3 linked regions of the Homo sapiens genome follow. The protein of the gene in region 1 interacts with the protein of each later gene in a pairwise test. Each region holds a gene or a part of one and is shown in the gene's direction. Other genes may lie near its edges. The genes, in order: PAN2, PAN3 and TNRC6C.

Region 1 (10,822 bases):
TTCTCTGTTTGCCTTTTCTGTGCTTTAACTTTCCCTGTCCTAAAGCCCTAGTTCCTTTGGTAGGGACCCCACTGGGTTAGGTAGGTGGCAGGTATTTTTCCTGATAACAGAATTTGCAGATAACTGAATTTTTTTTTTCTAGGTTTCCCTGAGAGACCTCCGTACTTTTAAGGTGGAACATGAGTTTGATGCCTTCTCAGGAAGTCTGTCAGACTTTGATGTGCATGGCAACCTGCTAGCTGCCTGTGGCTTCTCCAGCCGCCTCACTGGCCTGGCCTGCGACCGTTTCCTCAAGGTGTATGATTTGCGCATGATGCGTGCCATCACACCACTTCAAGTACATGTGGATCCTGCCTTCTTGCGCTTCATTCCTACATATACTTCTCGTCTTGCTATCATCTCTCAGTCAGGTATGAAGGGCATATGGGATTGGGTAGGAGGGATCGATGAGCAAAGGAGAGCTAGAACCCGAAGGAGTACTCATCCTGAAACCTCTTTGTTGGGGAAAGAAGTAACCTTTCATCAGGGTCCCAAGGTTTTACTTGGGTTTGGCCAGAGATTAGAGCTTTTATTTTCTTGAATATGAGGAACATGGAAAAAGGTAAAGATAAAGTAGGCAAAATAACTGTAGAATTGCTCTTTGCTGAGTAGCGAACCATCTGTGGTTTATGGAAGGCACGAAGTGGCATTCTGTCTCTAGGCATGGATTTGGGGCCCATCTTGTCCTGAAATCAGGGGAAGAGGATAGGAAGGGCATAAGAATATGGCTCCCTTTCACTTTCTAGGGCTCAGTGGGTTTCTTCCTCCTTTGTAGGGCAGTGCCAATTCTGTGAACCCACAGGCCTGGCCAACCCAGCCGATATCTTTCATGTGAATCCTGTGGGGCCTCTGCTAATGACATTTGATGTGTCAGCCAGCAAGCAGGCTCTGGCCTTTGGGGATTCTGAGGGCTGTGTGCACCTCTGGACTGATTCCCCGGAGCCTTCCTTCAACCCCTACTCCCGTGAGACTGAGTTTGCTTTGCCGTGTCTCGTGGACTCACTGCCTCCTCTGGACTGGAGCCAGGACCTGCTGCCTCTTTCCCTCATCCCTGTCCCACTCACCACTGACACACTTCTCTCTGATTGGCCTGCTGCCAACTCTGCTCCAGCTCCCAGGTTGTACCCTACCTCTGGGCCAAAAGGCGGGAGGGACAGGGAAAGGGCCAAGATACCAGAATTCTCTGCTAGCCCTGTTGTTATTCTACTACTTTCCTGATTTTTGTCTACCTTCAGTATTTTCTTTTTCTCTGGACCCTTGGGGATTGGGGAGTGGACCAGTGTACACCACAACTCTTTAAGTCCTAGAACTATGCTGGATTGTAGGCGAGCACCACCCGTGGATGCAGAGATTCTGCGCACCATGAAGAAGGTGGGCTTCATTGGCTATGCGCCCAATCCCCGCACCAGGCTGCGCAATCAGGTGTGTTCAGAGTGGAGGGTCAGCCCCGACCCCGGCCCACTGAAGTTTCTCCTATCTTTTTCCTTTACTAGTCTTTCTTTTGTTTTTAGATCCTGTTGGTAACCAACCAAATTGATGGAACTATGCTAGGTGTTAGGGAGGATTCAAAGATAGAGAAGCTAGGGTCCTTGCTGTTAGGAAGTTTAGTATTTGGTTGGTGAAGAGAAGACATAGCCATATCAGAAATTACGTTCTGTTGTTAAATGCTGAAGGAATGTCATAAGCATTTAGTGCCAGAGCTGTTTGGAGGAAAAATGTTATTCCAGGCTAAAGTGACCAAGGAAGGTGTAATGAAAGAGCTGGGTATTAAGCTGGAAAGGTGGGATATCAGTTAAGTAGATAGTAACAGAGGAGAATATCCAAGATGAGAGAAGAGTGTTAGTAAAGATCTCAAGAGGCATAAATGCAAAACACATATCTGAGGGGGACTACATGAGTATACCAGTCTGGCCGGAGTAGCTGTTGGTATTGGGATGTAGTGAGCGATTAAAATTAGAAGTGGCCAGATTGCGAAGCTTTGAACACCAGTCTATAATAGAGGAAGTAATACACAGAAAGCAGCATTCTGCAAGGGTTAATTTGGTAGTGGTGTGCTGGACAGAGTGAACATAGGGAGACCAGTGTGGACGCCATCACAGTTGTCCATCTGTGCTGAAGCAGAGTGATGGCAGTGGAAATAGAAAGGAAGCAGCGGATGCTGAGAGTGCTATGAATATAGAAGGTTCAGGACTTGGTGGCTGTTTCAATGTTGGGATAAATGAGTGTGAAGCCAAAGATGACAAGACATCCAACAAGGTTACCTCTTCCTAAAATCCCTAGATACCCTACAGACTCAAGGAGTCAGACAGTGAATTTGACAGCTTCAGCCAGGTCACTGAGTCACCAGTAGGACGAGAAGAGGAACCACATCTCCACATGGTTTCTAAGAAATACCGCAAGGTGCTGGGGGACATCAGGGCCTGTGGGATGTGGGGAAAGGTACCCTGGGAAGGAAGTCATATGAGAAAGGATTGAAGGACTCAGTCAGGAGGCCTTCAACTACCACCCTGGACCCAGGAGGAAGGCTCTAGGAAAGGCTGTGGCTACTGGAAAGATTTGGGGACTCTGAGAATATCCTTGTCTTGCTCAGACAATTTCTACCTTAGGTGACCATCAAATATTCCAAGCTAGGGCTGGAGGACTTTGACTTCAAACACTACAATAAGACCTTGTTTGCTGGATTAGAGCCCCACATTCCCAACGCCTACTGTAACTGCATGATCCAGGTAAGGGTTGGGTATTCCTGTAACTTGAACGTGCCTGCTGCTTTTCTTCTTCCCTATGGCTCTCGACCCTGCTCTTTCCAGGTCTCCTCAGCCGTGTTCTCTTTACCATGGTCTCCTCTACAATTCTTTCTTGCCTCTACAACTTTCAAGTCTCCTCTGAGCTCCACCGGTTTGGTGGACTCACTGCTTCGGTGGACTCCTGCTTCTGGGACATTTTCTCCACCAGCTCACTTAACCTCCATATTTCTCCTCACCCCCAGGCCAGTTTCCTACATCAGTTCTTCTGCTTTTCCCTCCAGGTGCTCTATTTCCTGGAGCCTGTACGCTGTCTAATTCAAAACCACCTTTGCCAGAAGGAGTTCTGTCTGGCATGTGAGCTGGGCTTCCTGTTTCACATGTTGGACCTCTCTCGTGGTGACCCTTGCCAGGTCAGTACTTGGAGACACTTAAAATGGAAGGGGAAGGAAGGTGGACACAAAAGACAAAATAACCCCTTTCCACCAACACATTTCCAGGGCAATAATTTTCTTCGGGCATTCCGTACTATTCCTGAGGCCTCAGCCCTCGGTCTAATCCTGGCTGACTCAGATGAGGCCTCAGGCAAGGGCAATCTGGCCAGGCTCATTCAGAGGTGGAATCGCTTCATTCTCACTCAACTGCATCAAGATATGCAGGAGCTGGAAATACCACAGGCTTATCGAGGTGCTGGAGGCAGGTATGAAATCAGGATAGAAATAGTTAAAGCCATCATGACAGGCCCCTCTGTGATTTAAAAGGTCTCCTAACTTCCTCAATGTGCATATATCATCCTCTCCACTCTTAGCAGCTTTTGCTCATCGGGGGACTCTGTTATTGGGCAGCTCTTCAGCTGTGAGATGGAGAACTGCAGCCTCTGCCGCTGTGGCAGTGAGACCGTGCGAGCCTCATCCACTCTGCTTTTCACACTCTCCTACCCTGATGGTAGCAAAAGTGGTATACCCTTCAGCTCAGTTGGGAAGGCTCCCCAAAATGTCCTGTAATATCAGGGAGAGGGTGTTGGGGACTAACTGTGGGTAGAGGGGAGAACCAGGAGTATAGCATCTAATTTTCCCTCAGATAAAACTGGGAAGAACTATGACTTTGCTCAGGTGCTGAAGCGAAGCATCTGCCTGGACCAGAATACACAGGCCTGGTGTGACACCTGTGAAAAGTACCAGCCCACGGTGAGTGGACTGTTGGACTGGACTAGAGTCCTGGTCCTGCCATGGAGATTCAGCCACTATCCCATGTGGGGCTGGCTCTGTCAGCACTGCCATCCAGGGATCTCTGGTGGAGTGAGGAATCCCAGTTTGAAGACGCAGACCCAGGTCCCTGTCCAGACTCCTTTTCCTGTACATTCCCTGCCATTCCTTGTTTGTTTCTTCCTCTCAGATTCAGACCCGCAACATCCGCCATCTGCCAGATATTCTTGTCATCAATTGTGAGGTGAACAGCTCAAAAGAGGCTGATTTCTGGAGAATGCAGGCTGAGGTAAGGACTCAGACTAGAAACAAGGCTTCCGGAATAATTTTTCATTTTATCCCCCTTCTGACCTCCATATATGATTACATTCCTGAAGAACTGGATGTTTTTCTTCTGTGTTCAGGTTGCCTTCAAGATGGCAGTAAAGAAACACGGTGGGGAAATCTCCAAGAACAAGGAATTTGCTTTGGCTGATTGGTAGGTGCTGTCTTGGGAGTTGTCAAAGGATTGAATTGCCCAGTGGTTCCTCTTATCAAGACCTCTTTCGGAACAAATTTCCAATTCTTCTGACCTGATAGGAAGGAACTAGGGAGTCCAGAGGGTGTGCTGGTGTGTCCCTCCATTGAGGAGTTGAAGAACGTCTGGCTTCCTTTCTCCATTCGCATGAAGATGACCAAAAACAAAGGGCTGGATGTTTGCAATTGGACTGATGGGGATGAGATGCAGGTTGTTGAAAAACCGGGAAGAGGAAAGGGAATAAGGGAGAGAAGGTGGGGCAGAAGGTAAAGGAGGGCAGGGGAAGGTGAAACTTAGCAGAGGGAAAAGGAAGAGAATAAGGCCTAGTATTTACCTGTTAGGGGATTTTCCATAGTCACTCAGTTCAGTGTTGGGGTCCTAGATGGGCTAGGATGGAGATAACCCACCCTGGTCCCCCATCCCCCATACCCCCAACTCCCTGTCCTCTGTCCCCATTCCCCTCCCTTCCCCATCCTTAAACTTAGCTTAGCAGCCTGGGTACCCCCCTCACAGTGGGGCCCAGCCAGGGCAGAGGAGGAGCATGGTGTCTATGTGTATGACCTGATGGCTACTGTGGTACACATCCTGGACTCACGCACAGGGGGCAGCCTGGTGGCTCACATCAAAGTTGGAGAGACCTACCACCAGCGCAAGGAGGTGAGTGAGGTTGTAGAGGGCAGGAACACTCCTGGGATGGCCACAGTGAGTCCCAGATCTGTCCTTGAGTCTGAGACAGAGTGGTCCAGCCATCAATTTGTATCGCCACAGGCTTTCTTTGTATTTCCATAGGGCGTTACTCACCAGCAGTGGTATCTGTTCAATGACTTTCTTATTGAACCTATTGATAAGGTTAGTTGCAACATGTTCTGTTTCTTCTTTCATTTCCCCTTTTCCTAGCATCCTTATCTTTAGGGCTCTATAGAATGCCAGGCAGATTCAACAGGGAGGGAGGAAGGAATCCTCAGGAATAAAAACCATTAGCACTTAAAAATAGCACCTGAAAAAAAACAAAAACTAGCACCTGAGTCCTGGCCTCCGTCTGAAGTGGGGGAAAAGGAAAAGGGTGATATACATTAGCCATAAGTGCTTTTTCTCTTCTATAGCATGAAGCTGTGCAGTTTGACATGAATTGGAAAGTACCTGCAATCCTTTATTATGTCAAACGGAATCTCAATTCCAGATACAACCTGAACAGTAAGTGCTACATAGTAGACCCAAGTGTGTGGACAGTTTAGATTGGGCTTCAGGGTGAGATCTGGGACATTGCTTGCAAGTACTTAGGATTGGTAACCAGTGTTAATATTTCTGGAGATACTAAAGAGATTCCTGCTCATCAGACCTTAAATTTAGAAGTGCGAAATCCAGCCTGAGCAACATAGCAAGATCCCATCTCTTTGAAAAAAAATTTTTTTTTTTTTTTTGAGATGCAGTCTTGCTCTGTCACCCAGGCTGGAGTGCAATTGCGCAATCTCGGCTCACTGCAACCTCTGCCTCCTGGGTTCAAGCGATTCTCCTGCCTCAGCCTCCTGAGTAGCTGGGATTACAGACGCCCACCACCACACCCGGCTAATTTTTTTGTATTTTTAGTAGAGACAGGGTTTCACCATGTTGGTCAGGCTGGCCTCGAACTCCTGACCTCATGATCTGCCCGCCTCAGCCTCCCAAAGTGCTGGGATTACAGGCGTGAGCAACTACACCCAGCCTAAAAAAATTTTTTTTTTTTTTTTAATTAGCCTAGTATAGGCCAGGCACAGTGGCTTATGGCCTGTAATCCCAGCATTTTGGGAGGCTGAGGCGGGCAGATCACTTGAGCTCAAGAGTTCAAAACCAGTTTGGGCAACATGGTGAAACCCTGTCTCTACAAAAAATACAAAAAGTAGCTGGGTATGGTGATGTGCTCCTGTTGTCCCAGCTACTTGGGAGGCTGAGGCAGGAGAATCACTTCAGCCTGGGAGTCAGAGATTTCAGTGAGTCAAGATTGCATCATTGCACTCCAGCCTGGGTGACGAGAGTGAAACCCTGTCTCAAAAAAAAAAAAAAAAATTTAGCTGAGTGTGGTGGCATATACTTGTGGTCCCAGCTATTGGAGAAGCTGAGGCGGGAGGATCACTTGAGCCCAGGAGGTCAAGGCTGCAGTGAGTGAGCCATGATTGCACCAGTGTACTCCAGCCTGGGCAACAGGATGAGACTGCTTTTTTTTTTTTTTTTGGACAGAGTTTCACTCTTGTCACCCAGGCTGGAGTGCAATGGCACAATTTTGGCTCACTGCGACCTCCACCTCCCGGGTTCAAGCAGTTCTCCTGCCTCAGCCTCCCGAGTAGCTGGGACTACAGGCACCTGCCACCATGTCCGGCTAATTTTTTGTATTTTTAGTAGAGACAGGGTTTCACCATGTTGGCCAGGTTGGTCTTGAACTCCTGACCTCGTGATCCACCCTCCTTGGCCTTCCAAAGTGCTGGGTTTACAGGCGTGAGCCACAGTGCCCAGCCTGAGACCCTGTCTTAAAAAAAAAAAAAAAAAAAAAAAGCAGCTGTAAGTCTTGAGAGTGGAGTGGAAATGAGATGAGGGGGGGATGTTTGATCAGAATGGCTTAGGTTATGATGTTACATCTAATTATTCTTTTTTTTGAGACAGAGTTTCGCTCTTGTTGCCCAGGCTGGAGTGCAATGGCATGATCTCAGCTCACTGCGACCTCTGCCTCCCGGGTTCAAGCGATTCCCCTGCCTCAGCCTCCCAAGTAGCTGGGATTACAGGCATGTGCCACCACGCCCGGCTAATTTTTTTTTGTGTCTAATTAGTAGAGACGGGGTTTCACCATGTTGGGCAGGCTGGTCTCAAACTCCTGACCTCAGGTGATCCGCCCGCCTCGGCCTCCCAAAGTGCTGGGATTACAGGCATTAGCCACCGCGCCTGGCTATGAGCTCCTTATTAAGTACCTATTTGGTACCTTTAAACCATAGTTTCTCTGTAACCTTTTTCTGGATTCTGTAAACTAAGGTCCAAGTGAAAATCTTATTCTTTCTTCTCTGTGGTCTTTTCTGGTTTTTTCTCAGCATGTTTGTTGATAATTTTGTGATGTGACCTGCTCTGTCTACCTGTCCCATTTATCAGACATGATCTTTTTTCTCACGTGCTTTGATTATTGAGGGATCACAGTGAAGACCCAGAGTCGATGATCAGCCACACTGGGCTTCTCTCCCCTAGTCACTTCCCTATCCAAGCCCTGTGTCCTCTGCATTCTCCCTTCTAGTCAAGAACCCTATTGAGGCAAGTGTCTTGCTGGCTGAAGCCTCGCTGGCACGGAAGCAGCGGAAAACACATACTACCTTTATTCCACTGATGCTGAATGAGATGCCACAGATTGGGGACCTGGTGGGTCTGGATGCTGAGTTTGTCACCCTTAATGAGGTAACCAAGACCAAAGGGATGGGGCATTGGAAGAGAACGCTGAGGATATTAGGAGTTGTAAGCATTTCTCTGATTTCCTTATTAACTCTTCTCATGTAGGAGGAAGCAGAGTTACGCAGTGATGGTACCAAGTCTACCATTAAACCAAGCCAGATGTCAGTAGCCAGGATTACCTGTGTTCGGGGCCAGGGACCCAATGAGGGTATCCCCTTCATTGATGACTACATCTCTACCCAGGAGCAGGTATTAGGATATGGAGATGCAAGTGAGGCACACCCTGGTGCTTACTTACAGTGCTCAAGAACCCAGGGAAGAGTGATAGGGGAAGACTCCATCTCACTTCCTGAAAAAGGCTTGTCCTTTTCTCTATTCCTAGGTGGTGGATTACTTGACTCAATACTCGGGTATAAAGCCTGGTGACCTCGATGCCAAAATTTCCTCCAAGCACCTAACAACTCTCAAGTCTACCTACTTAAAGCTTCGTTTTCTCATTGACATTGGAGTCAAGTTTGTGGGTCATGGCCTGCAGAAGGACTTCCGGGTCATCAACCTGATGGTTTGGCAGGGCTCTTTTAAGAGTCTTCTTGTGAGAGTGGGCCCCTCAGGGTATACATTGTGCCTTTAGAGAATGGGGAATTATAGGTCCCCTACCTTAAGTCTCCCCCTCTTTTATCCTTGCCAGGTGCCCAAGGACCAAGTCCTTGACACTGTCTACCTGTTCCATATGCCCCGAAAACGAATGATTTCCCTGCGATTCCTTGCTTGGTACTTTCTGGGTGAGTTGCTCTGCCTTGTAGGCCCCTGCTACATTAATAGCAGAAGCAGCCATTTAAAAAAAAAGAAATCATGTTCTTTGCGGCAACATGGATGGAGCTGTGGGCCATCATACTAAGTGAACTAACTCAGAAACAGAAAATCAAATACCACATATTCTCACTTATAAGTTGGAACTAAACAATGAGTACATATGGACATAAGAATGACATTAGGGACTCTAAAAGTTGGGGTGGTGGGTGAGGGGTGAGGGTTGAAAATTACGTATTGGGTGCATAGTTCACTATTTGCATATTAGGGATACCAGAAGCCCAGTCCCCACCAGTACACGATACACCCATGTAACAAACATGCACATGTACCCCAAATCTAAAATAAAATTTAAATATAAAAAATAAAAGCATGGGGGGAAAAGAAAAAGTAGGAAAAGTGTTAGAGGACAAAATGGGAGTAGGGGAGACCCTCAGTTAGTGGTGACAGTTACTAATGGATTTAATTAACTTCAATATCCCTTCTGTGCACTGAGGAAGATGTCTGACAATTTTCCTTAAGGGCAGTCAGGCTTTTTAGTTTTCTGGAGTCAGGTAGGAGTGGGGAGACATGTTCCTACCTCCCTTTGCTGGGTCCCAAACTATTCCACCTTTACTTACCCCAGACCTGAAGATTCAAGGGGAAACCCATGACAGTATTGAGGATGCCCGCACAGCCCTTCAGCTGTACCGAAAGTATCTGGAGCTAAGCAAAAATGGCACTGAGCCTGAGTCTTTCCACAAGGTGCTCAAGGGTCTTTATGAGAAGGGCAGAAAGATGGACTGGAAGGTGCCTGAGCCTGAGGGCCAAACAAGTCCCAAGAGTAAGACCTGGGATGGGACAAGGGAAACTGGACTGGGTGGATTTTGTATTTTGTTTGTTTGTGACAGGGTCTCACTCTGTCACCCAGGCTGAAGTGCAGTAGCGTGATTACAGCTCACTGCAGCCTCGACTTCCTGGGCTCAAGTGATTCTCCCACCTCAGCCTCCCAAGTACCTGGGACAACAGGCACACACCACCACACCCAGCTAATTTTTGTACTTTTTGTAGAAACAGGATTTTGCCATGTTGCCCAGGCTGGTCTTAAACTCCTGGGCTCAAGCGATCCACCCACCTTGGGCTCACAAAGTGCTGGGATTACAGGCATGAGCCTGAGCGCCCCCAATTGGGTGGATTTTGATTGCACATATGGAGAATAGCACTTAACAGTTTACAAAGCACTTCATCCTCCTAACATTCAGTAAAATACATTTTATCGAAACTCTCCATTAACTATAACTTCCTCTTGCCCAAGTCTAAAATGTTCAGGGAAGGTCCATGCCCTTTTTTCTCTTGCATTTTTCCTTCATAGGAAGTATGAGAAGATGCTTTTTCTCCACTCAGCTTGAATCATGCTTTTGGTTTTGTCTCTGACAGATGCAGCTGTCTTCTCCTCAGTGCTGGCGCTCTGACTACCCTTCCCAAAGAACCACGGCCCTCTCCCTTTACTGTTCTATAGCCCCAGAACTGGGAGATGGCTTCCTAAGTTGGCTATACCTTGTCCACTTCCAGTACTGGACGTGCTCAGGGTCTAGGGTCACAGATGGTGCTATTAATTGAACTGGAACACAGCAGAATTGTTGCAAAGGTTCTAGGAGCCAGATTCATTCCTTCTTCATTCTTTGCAAAACAGTGGTACAGACATGGAGTCTAGAATTGACCCAGATGGAAAGTAATTGGTATTCTTAATATCCTGGGTGACTAATATCCAGGCAGAGAAGCTCCTGGAACCATAACTGTAAGTTCCTAGCTGGCTAGGGATTGAAGTCCTGGACAGTGACAGAGGATACCACAGTAGTTCAAGACTTAGCACAAGTCACCAACTGCTTCAGGGATACCTGGAGGGGCCAGCAAGTAGAGTGTTGGTGGCCCAAGCAAACCAGTGTTGCCAATACCATTGCCAAAAGGGCCTTTGGATCCTGGACAAAGCTTGGCTGCCGGCTTCATTTATTCCTGCTGATGGCTGAGAAGCATCTGTCTTCCATCCCACTTGCCTGTCCCAAGTTTTGTTCCATTTTTTAAAAATTTGTTGTAAACTGCATGTTTTATAAAATAAAAATAAAATATCG
Region 2 (10,822 bases), on another chromosome or scaffold:
CTGGACTCTTTGTTCTTGTGTTGCTAATTCTCAAGTATGTTGTACATGCTCGTTCTTATGAGTTCTTTTAAGTGCGATTATTTTCTGTGGAAGGTTCTTGTATGTTGTCATTTTTGTGGAAGTGTTCATCAAAATAGTTTGGTGTTTGCTTCAGCAAGGTGTCTGAAGAGTTTTTCCAAAGCAGGTCGAGTATTGTGTTGATTTCTTGTCGGGATTCCTGTAACATGGAATCTCATGAGGATTTTCTCTCTTATACTTATGCATGGAACAGGCATGTGGTTTCCATTTCTCTTAAGACGTCACCCCAGTCCTCCAACCTTCCTCCTTTTTCTCCATTGCTCTTCGACAGACAGGCTTCCCTTTTTGTTCTATGAGCTGATAGAAATGTCCTGTATTTACTGCTTTTCCAGAGTCCTGGTTTTACACAGCGGTTTTAGTTTCATTTTCTGTATTCTGTGGGCTCATGGCCACATTTCGTGTACCCTTGTGGGCCTTAGAAACTCAACTTGTAGAGACTGTATCTGACCTAGCTTATAATTCCCCAAACTCCACGACATAACCTCCTGGCTTCAGATTCTGCTTTAGTTTCTTGCTCTTGGGGTTGGTTTGTTTGTTTGTTTGTTTGTTTGGTTTTGAGACAGAGTTTTATTCTGTTGCCCAGGCTGGAGTACAATGGTGTGATCTCGGCTCACGGCAACCTCCACCTCCCAGGGTCAAATGATTCTCCTGCCTCAGCCTCCTGAGCAGCTGGGATTACAGGTGCGCACCACCACACCCAGCTAAATTTTGTATTTTTAGTAGAGATGGGGTTTTGCTGTGTTGGCCAGGCTGGTTTTGAACTCCTGACCTCAGGTGGCCTGCCTGCCTCAGCCTCCCAAAGTGCTGGGATTATATGTGTGAGCCACTGCGACGGGCCCTTTTTTTTTTTTTTTTTTTTTTAAGATCAGGTATATTTTAAATGTTGGGATGTTGTGTTTTATCTCACAGTTCTGTGTGTTCATAACATTGGTAGGGGTTGAGGGAGGGTGTCCATGTTAGTTTAGTCTCTCATTTTCCAGAAATAATATTGTCCTAACTGGTTGGTTGTATTTAGGAAGGGTGCTGATTTGGTATATATTAATTTTCTAATCATTAATGAATTCTGTAATTATTTTCCAGGAGTTTTTTATGTTGTTTCTCTTAGGTTTTCCAGAAATAGAATTGTGTTATCCAAAAAAACAGTGATGCTTTGCCTTTATAGATTAGCCTTGAAGTTTTTAAAATCTCATTTCTTTCTTTTGTTAGTTCCAGTTAATTTCTCCAGTAGACATTCCTGTGTTGTTCCTTACTTTTATTTGAATTGGGTACTTTTGAGAATCATTTTTCAAATGCCCTAAAGCAGTTAATTTATCATATATTACTTTTAAATATCTCAGTTTGCATGTTCACTTTAGAAGTTACAGTGTAATTATTGTATACTGATGTCATCAGAATGTCATTTCAAGAGTAAATGACAAAAAAAAATACAAAAAATGAAATACGAAAGTGAAATATTCTTAATTTAGAATATTTAAAATACAAATTTTCATCCTTCTAGATTGTTGTTATGCTGATCTTCTATGTATTACTATATTTGCTGTAGTGCTCTGTTGATTGAGTGTCAGTTAATATCAGGGTGTTCCAGTAACCATTGGTAGCCCTTTCCCTGCTGTATATGGAAAGATTGAAATTATACAAGAATATTTATGTGTGAAACATGAAATTTCTAATGAAGAAGAAGAAACTTCTATTACAGTGTATCTGATGTACCTCATTATTAAAAGAAGACCTTTAGTTTTATTATATCAAATGGTTTCCTGAAACCCTTTTAGCGTAAGATTCCTGTGGTTAAACATTAAATAATATGCAATGGAAGATGTCATTTTAAATTAAGAATTCTTAACTTTCAATCAGATTTTCTTAATTTGAGCAGAATCTGCTCATTTTAATTCAGCATCCTATTTTAAACTACTTGTTCCTGTAGTGTGGTTCTATTCTTTCTTGCTGTTTATAATTTAGTACTGTATGTAGGCACTTAAGAATGGGCATCTTGTTAGTATTGTCTTCATAATACTAAATACAGAATACCTCTCTCCAAGTGGATGTGTAGATATTTTACTCAGTTCTTTAACACACTTATAAAATATACAGATGACACAAAGCTGTGTCTTTTGTGATTAGATTAGGTATTTCAGTAATTTAGTTTTTAATTTCCTATGCAATTTAAGTATCCTATTATCCTTATTGGCGGGGGTGGTGATGCTTACTGTTGTACATGTTTTATTTTGAATGTTCTTTCTTTGCTTTCCTTTTTTTTTTTTTCCTTAGAGAGACAGGGTCTCGCTATGTTACCCAGACTGGAGCACAGTGGCTGTTCATGGGCGCTTTGTGGCTCATGCAGCCTCAAACCCCTGGGCTCAAGCGATCCTCCTGCCTCAGTCCCCCAGGTAGCTGGGACTACAGGCTCACACCACTGCACTCAGCTTACATTTGAATGTATTTAAGTAACTCCAGTCAGCCTCAGCTCAGATGAACTCAAATTTTATTTCTGCAACTTTATATTAAAATAACCTCACAAAATTTAGAATTCTTAAGAGAACTCTTGATACCCTATAGTAAATTCTACTATAGGTGAATTTCTATCTTAACTCACCTTAGATTGTTTTTATGGTAATCTCTTTCCACGTACTCAGCCTTGAAGAGAGATTCTACTTTTTGTCTCACTTACATACCTACTTTGATGTCAGAATCTTTCCCTTCAGCCAATGCTACACATAGCCCCATCCCCACGTAGCTTTAGTAGTCACACTAAAGCTAGTAAAACATGTAATTGATTTCCTGTTTTCGTATGTGTGTAAGACTTAGGAATTGGTCAACTATATAGCATGTTGGCTGAGAGCACTGACTTTGGAATTAAATCAACCTGAGTTTGAGTCTTGATTATGTTGCTGAATTACCTATATTTGTCCTTACAGTAATTATTTTGATCTTTTAAGTTAGTTTCTCCTCTGAAATAAATATGCTATACCTACCTCACAGGGTGGTTGTGAGGATTAAGTAGATTGATGGATGTGGAGCACTTAGATTAGTGCCTGAAACATTGAAAGGGCTCAAGAATTGTAGTTCTGTTGTATTACTTAATGTCATAATAGTAAACAAATTTACTCATCTTTGGTTACTTGGCCAGTTTATTTTGGAAAGTCTTAGAGACTAGCTTTAGGAAAATCTGTCTAAATGCATTTCATTTTAGACAAGTAGGGAGTTTTTATCCATTGATAATAGTCTAATATAATTTTTGCTGTATGGATTAACCTTTAATTAACTGTACAATATAGAGTTAGATTAAAAACAGCTCTGGAATAGTTTTTAAAAAATAAAATAAAAGGTTTATATAAATATAGTAATTTGGCTTCATATTTTTTTTAAGGAGTTTGGGTTTTTTTAAAGTTTCTTTTATACACATTTAAGACATAACTCGAGAATTCCTATCCTATTTTAATCTCAATGCAGTAGACATTGTGTTATAGTAAGTAGGAGTACTAGATTGGGAATTTGGAGAGTTGAGTTTGAGTCTTGGCTTTGCTGTTGACTTTGCATGTATGTCCTGTGGTGTTTATAGCCTGATTTACCTCACCTACCTACTTTAGTTGCTCAGAAAACCAGAAATAATTATGTTGAGGCTCTTCAGAAAGTACAGAGGGCTATCCAAAGAAAAGAAAAGTATTACCTCAGTTCTCTGCTTATTTTTGTTCACCTACATGTTTTCAGAAAACATGTTGGTATCTTATGAATTATTAGAAATTGAAACTCATATCCCTGTTAATCATAATTTTGTGACTAGGGCATTTTTGGTAGCCCTTTTCTTATATTGTGAGGTGGCATATTATTTCAGTGGTGAAGGTTTTTAGGCATTCACCAAATAGCCAGAAAACAGTTCCTGGATAAGCTTATTTTTTTCAGGAAGGGTAACTGTTGCTCTAAATACCCTTTTCAGTCTGCTCAGAACTGATCACCTCCATTAAGCCTTTGATTAACGCTACCTGGTTTTAATTAATTTGCATTTCATCAGCATTTATGCATGTAGTTTGTAGTGTATTAGTTTATATTTGGGTTTTTTTAAGTTATTTTATGTCTTTTACATGTGACCTGGTCTTTTTTTCTCAGCTAGCTTGGAATCTCCTGAAGGGTAAAGACAATTGTCCTTTCCCTTTCTTCACAATAAACTCATAATAGAGGGCGCTTTGCACATAATGTTTCTTACTGGTTGTGGTTGTTCCACTGGAACATAGTGGTTGTTCCACTAGAACATAATGGTATCAATTGGCCTAATTCTAAATAGTATGCATCTGTAGAAATTTTCAGAGTATGCCTGTTTAGAGTTAATGACAAAAAGGCATCAAAACAACAGACTGCTTGATACTAAAAATATGGCACTTAAGCTGCTATGTATTTCAACTTTTTTTTTTTTGCTTTTTCAAACAATTTTGTTAATTATATTTGGCTGAATGAAATCTAGTAGCTCTTCATTAGATAATTTGAATTTTTAATACTGTAATATATTTGGGGAATGTGCTATTTGTATTGTTAATGATTCTTAATAAAAAAGGAATTATGCCTTTTATAAAAGAAAAACTTTTATAAAAGGCATAATTTTATAAAGAGCCACAATTCTGTTACTTCCCACTCTTCCATTAATTTATTAAATTTTTGGTCACTCTTGCTATTAAATTTCCTGATGTAAACCTTGATATGGAGGAGACTATTCTTGCAGTAAATCTGCTAACATATTTGGAAATAAGTACATTTGAAAAAAGAAACTTTACATTTGCTTTAATCAGAGCTTTTTCTACAACAAAACAAGATAAAATTATTTCCTTCATCTTTGCACTTACGATCCCAAAGATGATGTTTCTTCCAAATGAATGTTTGCATTTTATTTTCCAGACTTGTTCTCTAAAACCAATTATTGCTCCATTAAGAAACATTTTTACATCTTCTTCAGGAATGTCGTTGTCTGCTGGGTCTTCCCCTCTTCATTCCCCCAAGATTACTCCACATACTTCTCCTGCTCCCAGAAGAAGAAGTCACACTCCAAATCCAGCAAGTTACATGGTGCCTTCTAGTGCCTCTACATCTGTTAATAATCCTGTTTCTCAGACTCCGTCTTCTGGTCAGGTGATCCAAAAGGAAACTGTTGGTGGGACGACTTACTTCTATACAGACACAACTCCAGCACCTTTGACTGGAATGGTATGTCTACATTAAAGAGGAAATTTTAGTACTCTCTTGTAACAGGACCTTCTTAGTTGTGAGGCGGTCTACCCCCTCCTGCAGCTTTTTATTGTGATGCAAAAAAGTATTTCATTTTCTAACTTAGATGAGAAGTCTAGTCTCTTCTTCTCAACTCTTCAAATTAATCTAGTTCTGCCTTACTAATAATTCTAGTTTTGGACTAAACTGGTTTAATCAGAAATTAGATTATATCCATGCTCTTATTTTAGTCTTTATGGCATGTTTTGCTTATGGGTTTACCTTGTACTAGCTGGAATTGATGCCTGCTGACATTTGTTTATAGGTATAGATAGTTTAACCTCAGTAAGAAGCTAGAAAAAGTAGATGGTATGTCCTCAGTAGTTACTGGAAGCAAATCAATGATAAACCCTTATTTCAGATGAGGTAGTTATTTAACAGCTAGATCTGTGGATGGTGGAGTGACACATAATGATAAGGGGCCTGCAGTATGGCTCTTATGCTCAGGAGATAGAGTAGTCAGACCCAAGAGAGCCATGATTGTAGATGACGAAAGAGCTACCAAAGGACTGGCGATGAAGTGAGGGAAGAATCGTGAAACAAATGGGAAGAGGTGGCCCCAGAGGAAACATGAATATTAAGACCAAAAGAGGAAGAACATGGCCAGAAAGAAAGATTTCTTATCAGAGTCAATTAGTAATGTTCCAGGAGAGGGAGAAGGAACAGGAGTCAGGGGGCGAGAATGAATGGGGAAGGAGAGGGAAGGATTCCATGTTACGTAAATTGTACCTTTTTTAGCTTCATTACTTCATCCATATTCAAAAATTATTTTATTTACCCTAGAAAAATAAGTAGTAGATGAAGTGAGTGAGAAAGTCAGAGTCCACTAAAACAGGGGTCCTCAATCCTTGGACCAGAGACCAGTGTTAGGAACCAGGCCGCACAGCAGGAGGTGAGCAGTGGGCGAGTAAGTGAAGTTTCATCCGTATTTACACCCACTCCCCATTGCTCTCATTACCATCTGAGCTCCTCCTCCTGTCAGATCAGCAGAGGCATTAGATTCCATAGGAACATGAACCCTATTGTAAACTATAAATATATTGTAAAATACATATATATTTTATATATATGTAAAGTTATTAAATTATATAAATATATATTATATATATTATATATAATTAATATATATTATATATAAATTATATATAATATATAATTAATTATATATTATATATAAATTATATATAATATATAATTAATATATAAAATTATATAAATATATATATTTTTTGAGATGGATGTTCGCTATTTCACCCAGGCTGGAGGGCAGTGGTTCAGTCTTTGTTCACTGCAGCCTCCGCCTCCTGGGTTCAAGCATTCCTCTCACCTCAGCCTCTAGTAGCTGGGACTACAGACGCACACCACCATGCCTGGCTAACTTTTGTATCTTTAATAGAGATGAGGTTTCACCCAGTTGATCAGTTGGCCAGGCTGATCTCAAATTCTTGACCTCAAATGATCCGCCCACCTTGGCCTCTGAAGTGCCGGGATTACAGGCGTGAGCCACCATGCCCAGCCTAAACTATGCTATCTTATGTAAGGAAACCAACACAAGAAAAAAGAGATATTATTCTCCCTGCAGACACAGGCTAAAGGAAACCTTACAAGTATCACAAAACTGCTTCCTAGTTGAGATGCAGAGCAGAGCAGTCATGTTAGGGCAGCGCAAATCAGCTGAATTCGTTTTTAAAAGAGAAAAAAGGTTTCATTGTTTAAAATGAAAGAATGAAAAAATAGAAAAGATATTTAAAACTGAACTTTGATTTTGTATCATGGACCAGTGAAGGAGAGGCAGAGAAAAGAGTGATAAAGAGAACAAAGGGTGGTGGGATGAGTCCAGTTGAAAGAATGAAAGACAAGAAGCTGGAAGCTGATTTAGTAACTTTATTGTAGTTTGCTTGGAAGGTAAATGTATTATTGTATCCTTCTGTTCACTTAAACTGCTGACCTAGAGTAGGTTTGAATAACACTTTGTTTAGTTTGGCCACAAAATGCCTGTGAAAGGGGAAATTCTTTGGGCAGCCAGGGCAATATCACTTCCTTATCTCCCAGTACCCAAACACCTTTAGTTTCTCCTTCCTTCCTTCCAGTTGCTTTCAAAAAGTGGCGATGAACTGCTTGTATAGTTGCCATTTAGTATCCAAGGGGGATTGATTCCCGGACGCCCACAGATAGCAAAATTCCTGGGTGCTCAAGTCCCTGATATAGAATGACATAGTATTTGCATAGATCTTATACACATCCTCCTGTATACTTTAAATTATCTCTAGATTACTTATAATACCTAATGCAGTATAAGTGCTTTGTGAATAGTTGTTATAATGTATTTTTAATTTGTATTACTTCTCATTTGTTGTATTGTCATTTTTTTCCCCTGAATATTTCCTACCCATGGTTGGTCGAATCCTTGAATACAGAACCCAGGGATACAGAAGGCTGACTATGTGACATTTCTTCCAAAGAGCTACTTTTATCTTCTCAATGGAGCTTAAATTTTACTGTATCTGAAGAAATGTTTTCTTTCTCATTAGATTTTTTTTTTTTTTGAGACAGAGTCTTCCCCTGTCCCCCAGGCTGGAGTGCAGTGGCACGATCTCGGCTCACTGCAGCCTCCACTTCCCAGTTTCAAGCGATTCTCCTGCCTCAGTCTCCTGAGTAGCTGGGATTATAGGTGCCTGCCACCAAGCCTGGCTAATTTGTGTTTTTTTTGTTGTTTTTTTTTTTGAGATGGAGTCTCGGCTCTGTCACCCCAGCTGGAATGCGTTAGTTCAATCTTGGTGCACTGCAACCTCCACCTCCGGGTTCAAATGATTCTCCTGCCTCAACCTCCCGAGTAACTGGGAGTACAGGTGCATGCCACCACACCCGGCTAATTTTTTGTATTTTTAGTAGAGACAGGTTTCACCATGTTAGCCAGGATAATTTTTGTATTTTTAGTAGAGATGGAGTTTTACCATGTTGGCCAGGCTGGCTCATTAGATTTTTAATTGATTACTGAAATATTATGTTTATTTTTATTTTTTTAATTTTTTATTTTATTTATTTATTTATTTATTGAGACGGGGTTTCATTCTTGTTGCCTAGGCTGGAGTACAATGGCACAATCTCCACTCACCACAACCTCTGCCTCCCTGGTTCAAGTGATTCTCCTGCCTCAGCCTCCTGAGTAGCTGGGATTACAGGCTTGCGCCACCATGCCCCACTAATTTTGTATTTTCAGTAGAGACCAGGTTTCTCCATTTTGGTCAGGCTGGTCTCGAACTCCCAACCTCAGGTGATCTGCCCACCTCAGCCTCCCAGAGTGCTGGGATTACAGTTGTGAGCCACTGCGCCTGGCCGAAATATTATTTTTAATATGAATTCTTTCAGAAAGTATTCTCTAACAGCTATTCTCTGAGGTTTTTACTTCAATATTATTTAAAGATTTAAAATGTATTAAAATTTATTGCTATCATGTAAAGATTAAAATTTTATCAAAACAATAATAAAGCTTATTGATTATGAAAAATTAGTCAGGCTGGGTGTGGTGGCTCACACCTGTAATCCCAGCACTTTGGGAGGCCGAGGCAGGTGGATCACCTGAGGTCAGGAGTTCAAGACCAGCCTGGCCAACATGGTGAAACCCTGTCTCTACAAAAATACAAAAATTAGCTGGGCATGATGGTGGGTACCTGTAATCCCAGCTACGTGAGGCTGAGGCAGGAGAATCACTTGAACCCGGGAGGCAGAGCTTGTAGTGAGCCGAGATTGCGCCACTGAACTCCAGCCTGGGCAACAGAGCAAGACTCCATCTGAAAAAAAGAAAGAAAAATGAGTGATTACATTTACCCCCTTCCTACCTTTTTAGGTGTTTCCAAACTATCATATTTATCCTCCAACTGCACCTCACGTTGCTTATATGCAACCGAAAGCAAACGCACCTTCCTTCTTCATGGCTGATGAACTCCGACAGGTATGCTTTCAGAATTCATAGTAGGAATACTTAATGTCTCCTGTGCTTTAGTGAACAGGGGAAAGAACAGAGCTCTTTTCAAATCATATTATTTAATCAAATATGCTCTAGTAAAGCACATCGAATTTAGAAGTTTTAATTGGTATTTTTTTTAAGGAAACCTGTCTTTTAAAAAAATTTCAAATAAATTATGTGGCAGGATATAAAACATAGAATAGCTATTTAAATGGTTCACTGTTCTGTACTTCATTTTATTTCTATGAAAAGGCTCTTTGAAGTATATAAATAATTTAAATGGTTTCTAACAGTATTTTTCTAATAGATGTAGGTTAAAAATAAGTAGTTTGGCTCAGGAAATAACTTTAAGAGAGCTCAATATTTTTTTAAAAGAATGTTTTTTAAAAGTTTTTTTGTTTTGTTTAATTTTTGGTAAACAGCTAGTTATTTGGTATGTAGAATTTCACTTTACACTCAGATTCTCAGAAATATTTTTGTTTCATAGAAGTGAGTTCTACCAGTATAGTGTTTTTTAAATTAATTATTACCAGTTTACTAGTAGACCTTGAATTTTCAGCCACAGCGTTAGTCACGTGTTTTGGGTAGCCCAGCTACCCGTGTTTAAGGGGCACATCTACTTAAACCCAATCTTAATTATGGCATGTCTAAGTCTGTCTGGGCCTGGAGTTCAGACATTTTACCATGTTTAGAAATGTTTTAATATTTAAATGATTTTAATATTTAAAAAGTGCATATGCCAAAAATATTAATACTTAGGTTATTTAATTATAATAGGAATTCCAGGTTTCAGAATCTGTGTTTAAATAAAAATATACTTATTTTGTTTCATAGGAGCTGATCAACAGACATTTAATAACAATGGCTCAAATTGATCAAGCAGATATGCCAGGTAAAAAGCAAGTTGATCCTTCCTTTCTTTTAAAGGCTGTTATAATTCTTACGTGGTAGTACATGTTTTATGCATTATTAAGAAGAGTTCCAGGCTGGGCCTGGTGGCTCATACCTGTAATCCCAGCAGTTTGGGAGGCTGAGGCAGGAGGATTGCTTGAGCCCAGAAGTTTGAGACTAGCCTGAGCGAAATAGTGGGAACCTGTCTCTACAAAAAATAAATTAGCTGGGAGTGGTGGTGCATATTTGTAGTCCCAGCTACTCAGGAGGCTGAGGCAGGAGGATCACTTGAGCCTTGAAGGTTAAGACTGCAGTGAGCTGGCTATAATCGCCCCACTGCACTCCAGCCGGGGTGACAGAGTGAGACCCTGTCTCAAAAAAAAAAAAAAAAAAAGGACAGTCCCAAGGTACTACTGATCATCTAGTTTATTTCTGTTAATTCTACATATGACAGTATTCTAGTTCACAAAAAAAGTATATAATTTTAGAATTCATGGTGATTTACTTTACTGTGCACCAGAATATTTTTATCTCCTGAAACTTAATGAAGTATGGGTTCTTAAGCAGGAGAGGATGGTAATTATTAGGCCTATTTGTGAGACTACTGTGTGCCAGACAGTATACTAATTAAATACT
Region 3 (10,822 bases), on another chromosome or scaffold:
TATGTCTCATAATGGTAGCCAAAGGTGGAATGTCAGCAGCTGCAGCCTGAAACTTCAGTGGGCTGGGCTGGGCTGGGCACACTCCCTGCTCCTCTCCTGTGACAGAAGATGTACCAGGCCACAGTGTGGCCCCGAGGCTGCAGCCTATCCCAAGAAGTGCAAGGAGGCTATAGAGGTGGGAGAAAAGAGATGGTTGGTTGGTTGATTGGTTCCTTCTTAAGTAAAATAGCATTGTTCCAAATTGACTTCTATAGTAAAACATATTTTTTATAATTTTTTTTATTTCTGTGGGTACATAGAAGGTATATATATTTATGGGTTACATGAGATATTTTGATACAGGCATGCAATGTGTAATAATCACATCAGGATAAATGGGGTATCAGTCATCTCAAGTATTTATCCATTGTGTTACAAATAATCCTATTATACTCTTTTATGTATTTTTTAAATGGACAGTGAAATTATTTTTAGCTATAGTAAGCCTGTTATGCTAGTAATTACTAGGTCTTATTTATTCTTTCTGATTATTTTTTGTACCCATTAACCCTTCTCCACTTCTCCCCACCCCTCACTCTCGCACTACCCTTCCTAGCCTCTATCTTCATAAGTTCAATTATGTTCGTTTTTAACTCCCACAAATAAGTGAGAACATGCAAAGCTTGTCTTCATGTGCCTGGCTTATTTTAATTAACATAGTGACCTCCAGTTCCATCCATGTTGTTGCAAATGACAGGATCTTATTCTTTTTATGGCTGAACAGTATTCCATTGTGTATATCTGCCATATTTTCTTTATTCATCTGTTTATGGACACATAGGTTGCTTCCAAATCTTGGTTGTTGTGAGTAGTGCTGCAGCAAACATCGAAGCTCTCTCTTCAATATACTGATCTCCTTTCTTTTGGGTATATACCTAGGATTGAGGTAGTATAACTTATTATCAAACCCTATCTATGTTTTCAACATAGATTCATAGTCTCAGTTGTAATTTTTTCTAACTAAAAAAGATTTTGAGCTATCAGTTCCTCTTGTACTAACTTCTCTGAATAGATAACCCAGTATTTTTGCAAGTAACTTCAGTTAAGTTGGTTGCTAGTCAACATGGCAACCTAAGCTTAATCTTAACTTTACCTTCAAGACTGAAAATTTAAGCATCATTTATATTACTAGCAAACTGCTTTCAAGTATTGATAAGAATTATTCATTCATTCAATGTATGTTTATTTACTGCTTCTTCTCTGTCAGATACTCTGCTGAACACTGGCAGTAAAAATAGAGCCAGAATAGGTACGCCTTGCCTTCATGGTGTTTACAGCCTAGAGGGAGAACCAGCCAGTCACACGATGACTCACACTAGAATGTGTGCTCCATGAGAGAAAGAAGTCGTTCATCTTGTTTATGGCTGTGTCCCCAGCACAGTAGCTGCATATAGGAGGCACTCAATAATAGTTATTGTTTCAATTGAGTTGGCAAGCTCTGGGCCCATGAGCCACATCTGGCCCATCACCTATTTTTGGAAATAAAGTTTTGTTGGCACACAGCCACACTCATTCTGCTTTTGTGCCACAGCAGCAGAATTGAGTAGTTGTGACAGAGACTATATGGCCCACAAAGCCTAAAGCATTTTGGCTATTAGGCCCTTTACAGAAATTGTTTGCCACCCTGGTTGGTCTAAGTGACTTGAAAGGAAGACTGTTACAATGAATGTATGAGGGAGTCCTAACTAGGGAACAAAAACGTCCCAAATTAAATGTCCATGGATTTGAGATGGGAAAAAAGAATAGACATTGAGCCCAGGCAGGGGATGGCACCTTTAACAGCCCTGTCTTTGGGAGGGCAGGACACAGATGGCACCTCAAGGAACTGTCTGGAGCACAGAGCAGGAGAAAGAATGATATGAATGGCCTCAAAAGAGACCCAACCATTGGTGACCCACTGGGCATTCATTTGGAAAAGAGCACTGTATGCAGTGTTGAGCACATTATTGTGGGTGGGGCAGTAGGGGGCATGGGAAGAGACCTGTTGGAAAGTTATTTACAGTAATCCAGTCAAGACATGAGGGTGCTTGGAACAGGGGCAGTCAGAGGGAAGTTTTATTTCTTGTTTTAATGGAAAAGGTTCTAGAAATACCCAATATGTAAACTCAACAGGCATGACTTCATCCTTATGGCATCCTATATGGCCATCCTTAGGGCACTTCAGCTATTGGGGATGGATATTGGCCTTTGTAGAAGTGACTTTGCTTCCTGCCAGTATTGCCCCATTGGTGGTTATTTTGCTGTGGCATAGTTGAGATCTACACCTCAAAGCCCGGGAAGGTCTGAGTAGGCGGCGTCATTGTAGTGGAAGTGGTTCCCTCAGAAGATGGACGTGCTTGTTCAAAGCAGTCTGGGCTGTACAAGTGCAGCTGATTGGTGACTTCAGCTAGAACTCAGATTGTAGCACTATGCATGTATGGTTTTGTTTGCCCAGGAAGCATATATTGTTTGCCTATATGTGGCAAGCATTTTGAATGGAAAACTAAAAAGATATTTGCCACGCCCTCAAGGAACTCACCTTCAGAAATTAGACACTTAATTCAGGGATCAGATGGGTTTTTAATCAGACTGCTCTGCCGCCTGATTTGTATCACATTTAAACATAAAAATTAAAAATTTTGAAAATATTTTTTCAATAGAAGAAAGTATATAGAAAATAATATAACTGTGTTCACAATAGAGATTTAACATAATATCATGCCATATTTGCTTCAGGGCTCTCTATTTTAAAAATGTTATAGGTATCATCCTCTAACCCCATTCTGGTCCCCATCCCACCCCCAGAGGGAACCACAATTCAAAAATTGTAGTGTTGTGTCACTTTCATCTACAGTGTGACATTAAAGTGCATTTCTTGATTATTAATGAGGTTGATTATTGTTTCATATGTTAATGGCTTATGAGTTTTCTCTTTTCTAAATTGCCTGTTCCTATCCTTTTCCCATTTCTGGTTGGGTTGTTGGCCTCTTTCTTACCGATTTTTAGGATTCTTTTTTTTTTTTTTGAGATGGAGTCTCACTGTGTTGCCCAGGCTGGAGTGCAGTGGCACAGTCTCGGCTCACTGCAACCTCCACCTCTTGGGTTCGAGTGATACTCCTGCCTCAACTCCCAAGTAGCTGGAACCACAGGCGTGCACCACCACACCCGGCTAATTTTTGTGTAAGTAGAGACGAGGTTTCACCATGTTGGCCAGGCTGGTCTCGAACTCCTGACCTCAGGTGATCCACCTGCCTCGGCCTCCCAAAGTGCTGGGATTACAGGCGAGAGCCACTGCGCCTGGCCGGGAATTCTTTAAGCTGATAACCATACATTATCTGTTGTATCTTCTCCCTGCCTGTGGCTTGTTTTTTTAGCTTTCATTATATGATATCTTTTGTTATATAGATGTTTTTAATATTAGCATAGTCAAATTTATCACCTGTTTATGTCTTACGTATTTCATGTCTTCTACAAGATGATACAATGTCCAAGGTCATAGAGATGGTCTCCTTTGCTTCCTTAATAAGCTTTAAGAAGTTTTGCTTTTCCTAATTCGCTCTTTACTTTATCTGGCATGTATACGATATAAGGGATCTACTTTCATTTCATGTGGCTAGACAGTTGTCCAACAGCATTTATTAGCCACCAGCTTATAATGCTATCCTTCTTTCAAACGTGTCATATAATTGAGTATGAACCTGTCAAATTGGGGGCTGAGCAATCCTCAAGTCCTCAAAGTAGACCATTAACAAAGGGCAGATCATTTTACAGTGTGACTGTTGTGGAATGGAACCAATAATACTGTGTATTCGAATGGCACCTCACATATGGAAAAGAATGCATTGGTCAGCCAGGTTGTTAACCCCCTGCTTTCTCGGTGTGGGTTGCAGTGAGTGCTGTCTTAGTCAAGAGGCAGCCTGCCTTATGGCACAACCTGTCCATGAGGGAACCCAAACTGATGGTAAAATGAAATGTGGTAATATTTGCTGGCAACAAGCCATAATCTCTGTGTGTTAACTTGGTCTTATTTTCTGTGTTAAATGAGGAATGGCTTATTTATCTCTTTAGTTAGTTATTATATTAGATAGTTTTTAGAGTATGTGCAAAACCAAATTGTCATAAACCAGGGTTATAGAGCCAACCCCTAATAATTGGCAGTGAAAAGAACCTAGTCATTTTATAGCAGTTTCAACATTTAAAGTTTTCTGTTGCCTGTCTTCATTTTTCCTTTGTAGTTTTCACCTGGAATTACGTACCTACTTTGAAATCACCTAGAGCATAATTCTAAAATCATTACATTACTCTTAAATCAGGCAATAAAAATCTCTTTTAGGTTGATATTAGCTTTAGTATGGTCTTTCTAATGCTAATTTTTTTTGCACACTTCCTTTTTTTCCTTTAGCTCCATCAAACTTTAAAAGAGAATTTATGTGGGAAATTCATGTTTTAATTGTCCATACGATTTTTCTTGTTAAAATAAATTTGAAGAGAACATAATTAAAAGGATCTAAAAGAGAAGAAAATATTTTATTGCAGTTTATTTGTATATTGTAGTATTTAGAGAAACTCACCAAGGATTTCTAAATCACATATGTGAGTTTGTTGTATGTTTGGGTTAAATTATTTTTTTAACATTTCTTTTACTTTATTTTTTAGTGATACATACTTGGAATAAAGTCTGCCAAAAAGTTGATCGAAATATAAGTTTGACTGCAATGTTGGAAATACTCAAATAATTGTTAAAGTCATAGGAAATAAAATGTAGATCCAAACAGGGGATTCTTTAAAAGGACCCGAAGAGTTAAATACTATAAGAAGATGGCATATAAAGTTATTCTAGGGATCTCCAAAGAAAAGGCTCTAAAGAAATAGAAAACAAGGATTGAGAGAATCTTTAGAGATCCAAAAAGATAGCACTTGTGGGGCTGAGATTCTTCTTCCTTCTTTTTCTTCTTTTAGTGATGTCCTTGAGCTACAGATTTTTTTTTTTTATTATGAATGTGCAGGAGACAGTGATAAACCAAATTGCAGATAAGATCAGATAAAGTAGTATACAGCTAATTAAACATTTCTAATCCTTAGTATTTTTGATAACATAAGATAGCATTGTCTCATATGTCTTTTCTCTCTTTCCTTCCGTCACCACTTCCCCCACCCCAAATATTGGTTCTGTTATGATTCTGCAATGCAATTTACAATTTTTTTCTACTGAAAGCCATGTTTCGCCTCTATATAATACTGTAACCTAATTAGAGGTCTTAAAGAGAACTACAAGTTTTATTCAAAACTCTACGTGAACTTACTGTCATTGCCAGTGTTTCTCAGTCTCTGTATTTATAGGAGTTGCAAAGTCACTTATCTTTCAAAGCTGCCTTTACTACAGATGCTTTCAGAGATGCTGATGTGCTAACGTGCATTGTGAGTATTCTCCAGGGGGAATAATAGTACAGTGTAGTGGTAAGAATTGATATAATTTTAAAAACATTAACGCTCTTTAAAATGGGATCTATTAAGAAGACAAATAGCTTTTTTCTTTAAGTCATTTTTTTAGTGTTTGTCATTCAGATTTGAAGACTTGAAATAAAGAGCTTCCCCAAAGACTAGTTAACAGTTGATTCATTGACAAATGAGTAGAAAATCTAATTTTGAATTTTGTTTCATCTTTTTCAGATCTCAGTCATAGTGGATTGGCAGATCATTATGAAAATTCCCACTGGGGACAGCAGCCTACTTACAGAAGCGAAGCCAACTGCAGCTGGGATAAAGTGATAATAGATAGGACTGACAAGGAGGCGTGGCCTTCCATCACAGGAACAGAGACTGAATCTGCCTCAGAATGTACTACAGACACTGACTCTGCCTCCAACTGTGGCTCAGAGAACAGTAGCATGGCTACAGGGAGTGCCCAGGGCAACTTCACTGGACATACCAAGAAGACAAATGGCAATAATGGCACCAATGGCGCACTCGTCCAAAGCCCTTCTAATCAGAGTGCCCTTGGAGCAGGGGGAGCGAACAGTAATGGAAGTGCGGCCAGAGTGTGGGGTGTAGCCACAGGCTCCAGCTCTGGCCTGGCTCACTGCTCTGTCAGTGGTGGGGATGGAAAAATGGACACTATGATTGGAGATGGGAGAAGTCAGAATTGCTGGGGTGCTTCCAACTCCAATGCTGGCATTAATCTTAACCTTAATCCTAATGCCAACCCAGCTGCCTGGCCTGTACTTGGACATGAAGGAACCGTGGCGACAGGCAACCCTTCCAGTATTTGCAGTCCAGTCAGTGCCATAGGTCAAAATATGGGCAACCAGAACGGGAACCCAACAGGCACTTTAGGTGCTTGGGGAAACTTGCTGCCACAAGAGAGCACAGAACCACAAACGTCCACTTCTCAGAATGTGTCTTTCAGCGCACAACCTCAGAACCTTAACACTGATGGACCAAATAACACTAACCCCATGAACTCTTCACCCAACCCTATCAATGCAATGCAGACAAATGGACTGCCAAACTGGGGCATGGCTGTTGGTATGGGGGCCATCATCCCGCCCCACCTGCAAGGCCTTCCTGGTGCTAATGGATCATCAGTTTCTCAAGTCAGTGGGGGCAGTGCTGAAGGAATAAGCAATTCTGTGTGGGGACTGTCCCCAGGTAACCCTGCCACAGGAAATAGCAATTCTGGGTTCAGTCAGGGGAATGGAGACACTGTGAACTCAGCATTAAGTGCTAAACAAAATGGATCCAGCAGTGCTGTGCAAAAGGAAGGAAGTGGAGGAAATGCTTGGGATTCAGGACCTCCTGCTGGTCCTGGAATACTCGCCTGGGGAAGGGGCAGTGGCAACAATGGCGTTGGTAATATCCATTCAGGAGCTTGGGGCCACCCCAGCCGAAGCACCTCTAACGGTGTGAATGGGGAATGGGGAAAGCCCCCAAACCAGCATTCCAACAGTGACATCAATGGGAAAGGATCAACAGGGTGGGAGAGTCCTAGTGTCACCAGCCAGAACCCTACCGTACAGCCTGGTGGTGAACACATGAACTCCTGGGCCAAAGCGGCATCTTCTGGAACTACAGCAAGTGAAGGAAGTAGTGATGGTTCTGGCAACCACAATGAAGGAAGCACTGGGAGGGAAGGAACGGGAGAAGGCCGAAGGCGAGATAAAGGGATTATAGACCAAGGGCACATCCAGTTGCCAAGGAATGATCTTGACCCAAGAGTTCTGTCTAATACTGGTTGGGGACAGACTCCTGTAAAGCAAAACACTGCCTGGGAATTTGAAGAATCCCCTAGGTCTGAAAGGAAAAATGACAATGGGACAGAGGCCTGGGGTTGTGCAGCTACTCAGGCTTCAAACTCAGGGGGGAAGAACGATGGGTCCATCATGAACAGTACAAATACCTCTTCAGTATCTGGGTGGGTCAACGCGCCACCTGCCGCTGTGCCAGCAAACACAGGTTGGGGAGACAGCAACAACAAAGCGCCAAGTGGCCCGGGGGTTTGGGGGGACTCGATAAGCTCTACTGCTGTTAGTACTGCTGCTGCTGCCAAGAGTGGCCATGCTTGGAGTGGGGCCGCAAATCAGGAGGACAAGTCACCCACCTGGGGTGAGCCTCCAAAGCCCAAATCCCAACACTGGGGAGATGGACAAAGATCAAATCCAGCCTGGAGTGCAGGAGGGGGAGATTGGGCAGATTCATCGTCTGTCCTTGGACACTTGGGGGATGGGAAAAAAAATGGATCTGGATGGGATGCTGACAGTAATAGGTCAGGGTCTGGTTGGAATGACACCACGAGATCTGGGAACAGTGGCTGGGGCAACAGCACAAATACAAAGGCCAATCCAGGTACAAACTGGGGGGAGACTTTAAAACCTGGCCCCCAACAGAACTGGGCTAGCAAACCCCAAGACAACAATGTGAGTAACTGGGGAGGAGCTGCTTCTGTGAAACAGACAGGAACAGGGTGGATCGGGGGGCCGGTACCGGTCAAACAGAAGGACAGCAGTGAAGCAACTGGCTGGGAAGAACCCTCTCCACCGTCCATTCGCCGCAAAATGGAAATTGATGATGGTACCTCAGCTTGGGGGGACCCAAGCAACTATAACAATAAAACTGTAAACATGTGGGATAGAAACAACCCGGTCATCCAGAGCAGTACCACGACCAATACCACCACCACCACCACCACTACCACGAGCAACACCACACACAGGGTCGAGACGCCGCCCCCGCACCAGGCCGGTACTCAGCTGAATCGATCACCGTTGCTTGGTCCAGGTAGGAAAGGTATTTCATGTTTCTTTACAAGTAAAAAAAAAAAAAAAAAAGCTTATTCTCATTATATATTCATGAATACTCCGAGTAGTGTTTTTTATAGCAAATAGCATTAAAATAATTTAAGTTCCCTATCACCGTGCAATATTGTATCTAAAGATTATCCAGTGAGAGCAAAGTAGGATCCTCTGGTGGTTTTCTATTCAAGAAAAAAATATATTAAGCACACTCAGTAGAACATCAAGCGAATGTTTTGGTGGTGGCGGTGGTGGCCTGGGGTGGAGATGATGGATTTGAAAGCAATGACAGTGCATGATTCCAAGATTTCGTAACCATTTGGATACAGGAGCAAAGAAGATAGGATAGACATGGTTCAGAACTTGGGCAAGTTGGCAGATGACTGTGTCAGTTCACTGACATGCCCATGAGCACAGCAGGAGGCACAGAGCTCCAAGTGTCCAGTGAGGACAATAAAAGGTCCCAGATACGGAAGACCAGTTCTCAGCCAGAGGGGCAAGGTCCAGAGTAGAGAGATTTTAAGGTGGCAAAGTCGTGAGCATGTTTCAGAGCTGTTAGAAAGGAACAAGTGGAGATGAGAATGAATGAAGAGGGAAGAGATCCCTGTGTCCAGCAGGACAAGGGCACTTCATCCATCTCGTGAAGCAAGGAGCAGGAAAGAGCGCTGCACAGGTGGGCCAGGCTGTCATGGCCAGAGGGCCAAGGCCACCTTCTGGGGTTCTTTTCTCTCTGGGAGTGTGAATACTAGCCCAGAGTGGAGGAGGGCTGGCTAGGAGCAGCAGCACGAGTAGAGAGGGAGCATGCATTAGCCCATGTAGAGGACAGGAACAGAGAACTGACTTGACTGGGGCCCCTGGAGGGTTGCTGGGCAATGTCAGGGCCCAGAGATCACCATACACAGTGAATTTATTGGGACCTGCCATGTACTAGGCTGTACTCTAGTAGCTGGGGAAACTGCAGGAAGCAAAACAGTCAAAACCCTGCCATGGAGGGGTCTAGATCTAGTGAGGGTGGCAAACAACACACGAATTAAAGTATATACGTAGTGTTGGGCAGTGATGGTGCAGGGAGGAAACAGTAAGCCCAGAAGGTCTGCATGCGGGGGCCACTGGAGTTGGGGAATCACCATCTTGTGTAGGGCAGCCTGGGCATTTGGGCACCTTTTTGGTTTTTGTCATAAGCGTTCAACAGGAGAATGTCCTGCCTGCTGCATTAATTCAATTATGACTGCCCTACAGGACCTCCCCTGGCCCACCAGCTGGGCCCTCCAGCCTCCTCGTAGACTTCTTGGTGGTTCACTTGTGTACCTCTCTGAGGCTGCCACATCAGGAATCCTTTATGGATCCTCAAGACAGTTTTAGCCTCCAGCTAACGCATCAGTGTCACTAAACCAGAGGTCAAAAATCAGTGGTCCGTGGGCTGCACCTAGTCCCACAAATGTGCCTTTTTGGCCCACATTTTTTCTGTGAATTGGCATTTTTTTAATGCAAATGTTTTATATTAAATTCCAGATTTCTGGCTTCCTTTGGAAACCTGAAAAGTCTGACATTGGATTCACATGGCAGCAGTCAGTCAGAGCCACTTGCCTTCATAAGGGCCTGTGCATTTTCTCCATACCATGTCACGTTGCCCCCCGACCCCTGACGGTTCCCAACACTGAGGCTTTTGATCAGTAGCCACTGAGCATCATCAAGCTTGCGCTGCTGTTCTTACGCTGGGCCTGTTTACGTTAACTGACTGGTTCCTTGGAGTACTTGAATTTGTGATTCCAATTGTTTACTAATATATGACTAATATTTCTAGGCCCTTACATTTTATAAAGTACTTGGGGGGATAAGGAGAAGCAGGAAGAAGGAAAATGAAGGGATTTGAAAAATAAGATTAGGTCGGGCGTGGTGGCTCATGCCTGTAATCCCAGTACTTTGGGAGGCCAAGGCGGGCAGATCATCTGAGGTCAGGAGTTCGAGACCAGCCTGACCAACAAGGTGAAACCCCATCTCTACTAAAAATACAAAATTAGCCGGGCATGGTGGCGCATGTCTCTAATCCCAGCTACTCAGGAGGTGAAGGCAGGAGAATCATTTGAACCCAGGAGGCGGAGGTTGCAGTGAGCTGAGATGGGGCCATTGCACTCCAGCCTGGGCGACAGAGCGAAACTCTGTCTCAAAAAAAAAAAAAGAAAGAAAGAAAAATAAGATTATTCCTAAGTAAGGAATAGTCTAGTGGGACAGGCTAGTAATATCAAATTTAATAGAGTTTAATTAGCATTATAGTAAAGGTATGCAGAAAGTGATCTGAGAGCCCCCACCTGTAATCCCAGCTACTTGGGAGGCTGAGGTGGAAGGATGGCTTGAGCCCAGGAGTTCAAAGCCTGCCTGGGCAACATAACGAGACCCCATTTCTTTAAACAAACAAACAAAAAAGCTCCAGGAACAGAATTAATACAGTCATGCATAGCTTAACAATGGTGATACATTCTAAGAAATGTGTCATCAGACAATTTCAGCATTGTGTT

Evidence for each region.
Region 2: the proteins of PAN2 (region 1) and PAN3 interact in binary tests that used the Homo sapiens proteins (3 or more experiments, as listed by UniProt).
Region 3: the proteins of PAN2 (region 1) and TNRC6C interact in binary tests that used the Homo sapiens proteins (3 or more experiments, as listed by UniProt).

Annotation. Positions count from the first base shown.
Region 1 is NC_000012.12:56,316,952-56,327,773, reverse strand, and holds part of PAN2 (PAN2-PAN3 deadenylation complex catalytic subunit PAN2), read left to right. Parts: intron 1-142; coding exon 143-410; intron 411-814; coding exon 815-1,157; intron 1,158-1,364; coding exon 1,365-1,461; intron 1,462-2,319; coding exon 2,320-2,439; intron 2,440-2,645; coding exon 2,646-2,765; intron 2,766-3,064; coding exon 3,065-3,193; intron 3,194-3,280; coding exon 3,281-3,480; intron 3,481-3,588; coding exon 3,589-3,725; coding exon of another isoform or gene 3,726-3,737; intron 3,738-3,860; coding exon 3,861-3,967; intron 3,968-4,175; coding exon 4,176-4,274; intron 4,275-4,389; coding exon 4,390-4,463; intron 4,464-4,564; coding exon 4,565-4,712; intron 4,713-5,015; coding exon 5,016-5,159; intron 5,160-5,291; coding exon 5,292-5,351; intron 5,352-5,605; coding exon 5,606-5,696; intron 5,697-7,752; coding exon 7,753-7,910; intron 7,911-8,009; coding exon 8,010-8,153; intron 8,154-8,286; coding exon 8,287-8,466; intron 8,467-8,592; coding exon 8,593-8,686; intron 8,687-9,339; and 4 more. UniProt on the Homo sapiens protein: Catalytic subunit of the poly(A)-nuclease (PAN) deadenylation complex, one of two cytoplasmic mRNA deadenylases involved in general and miRNA-mediated mRNA turnover.
Region 2 is NC_000013.11:28,251,272-28,262,093, forward strand, and holds part of PAN3 (PAN2-PAN3 deadenylation complex subunit PAN3), read left to right. Parts: intron 1-5,020; coding exon 5,021-5,268; intron 5,269-9,175; coding exon 9,176-9,280; intron 9,281-10,129; coding exon 10,130-10,187; intron 10,188-10,822. UniProt on the Homo sapiens protein: Regulatory subunit of the poly(A)-nuclease (PAN) deadenylation complex, one of two cytoplasmic mRNA deadenylases involved in general and miRNA-mediated mRNA turnover.
Region 3 is NC_000017.11:78,043,157-78,053,978, forward strand, and holds part of TNRC6C (trinucleotide repeat-containing gene 6C protein), read left to right. Parts: intron 1-5,688; coding exon 5,689-8,292; coding exon of another isoform or gene 8,293-8,301; intron 8,302-10,822. UniProt on the Homo sapiens protein: Plays a role in RNA-mediated gene silencing by micro-RNAs (miRNAs). Required for miRNA-dependent translational repression of complementary mRNAs by argonaute family proteins.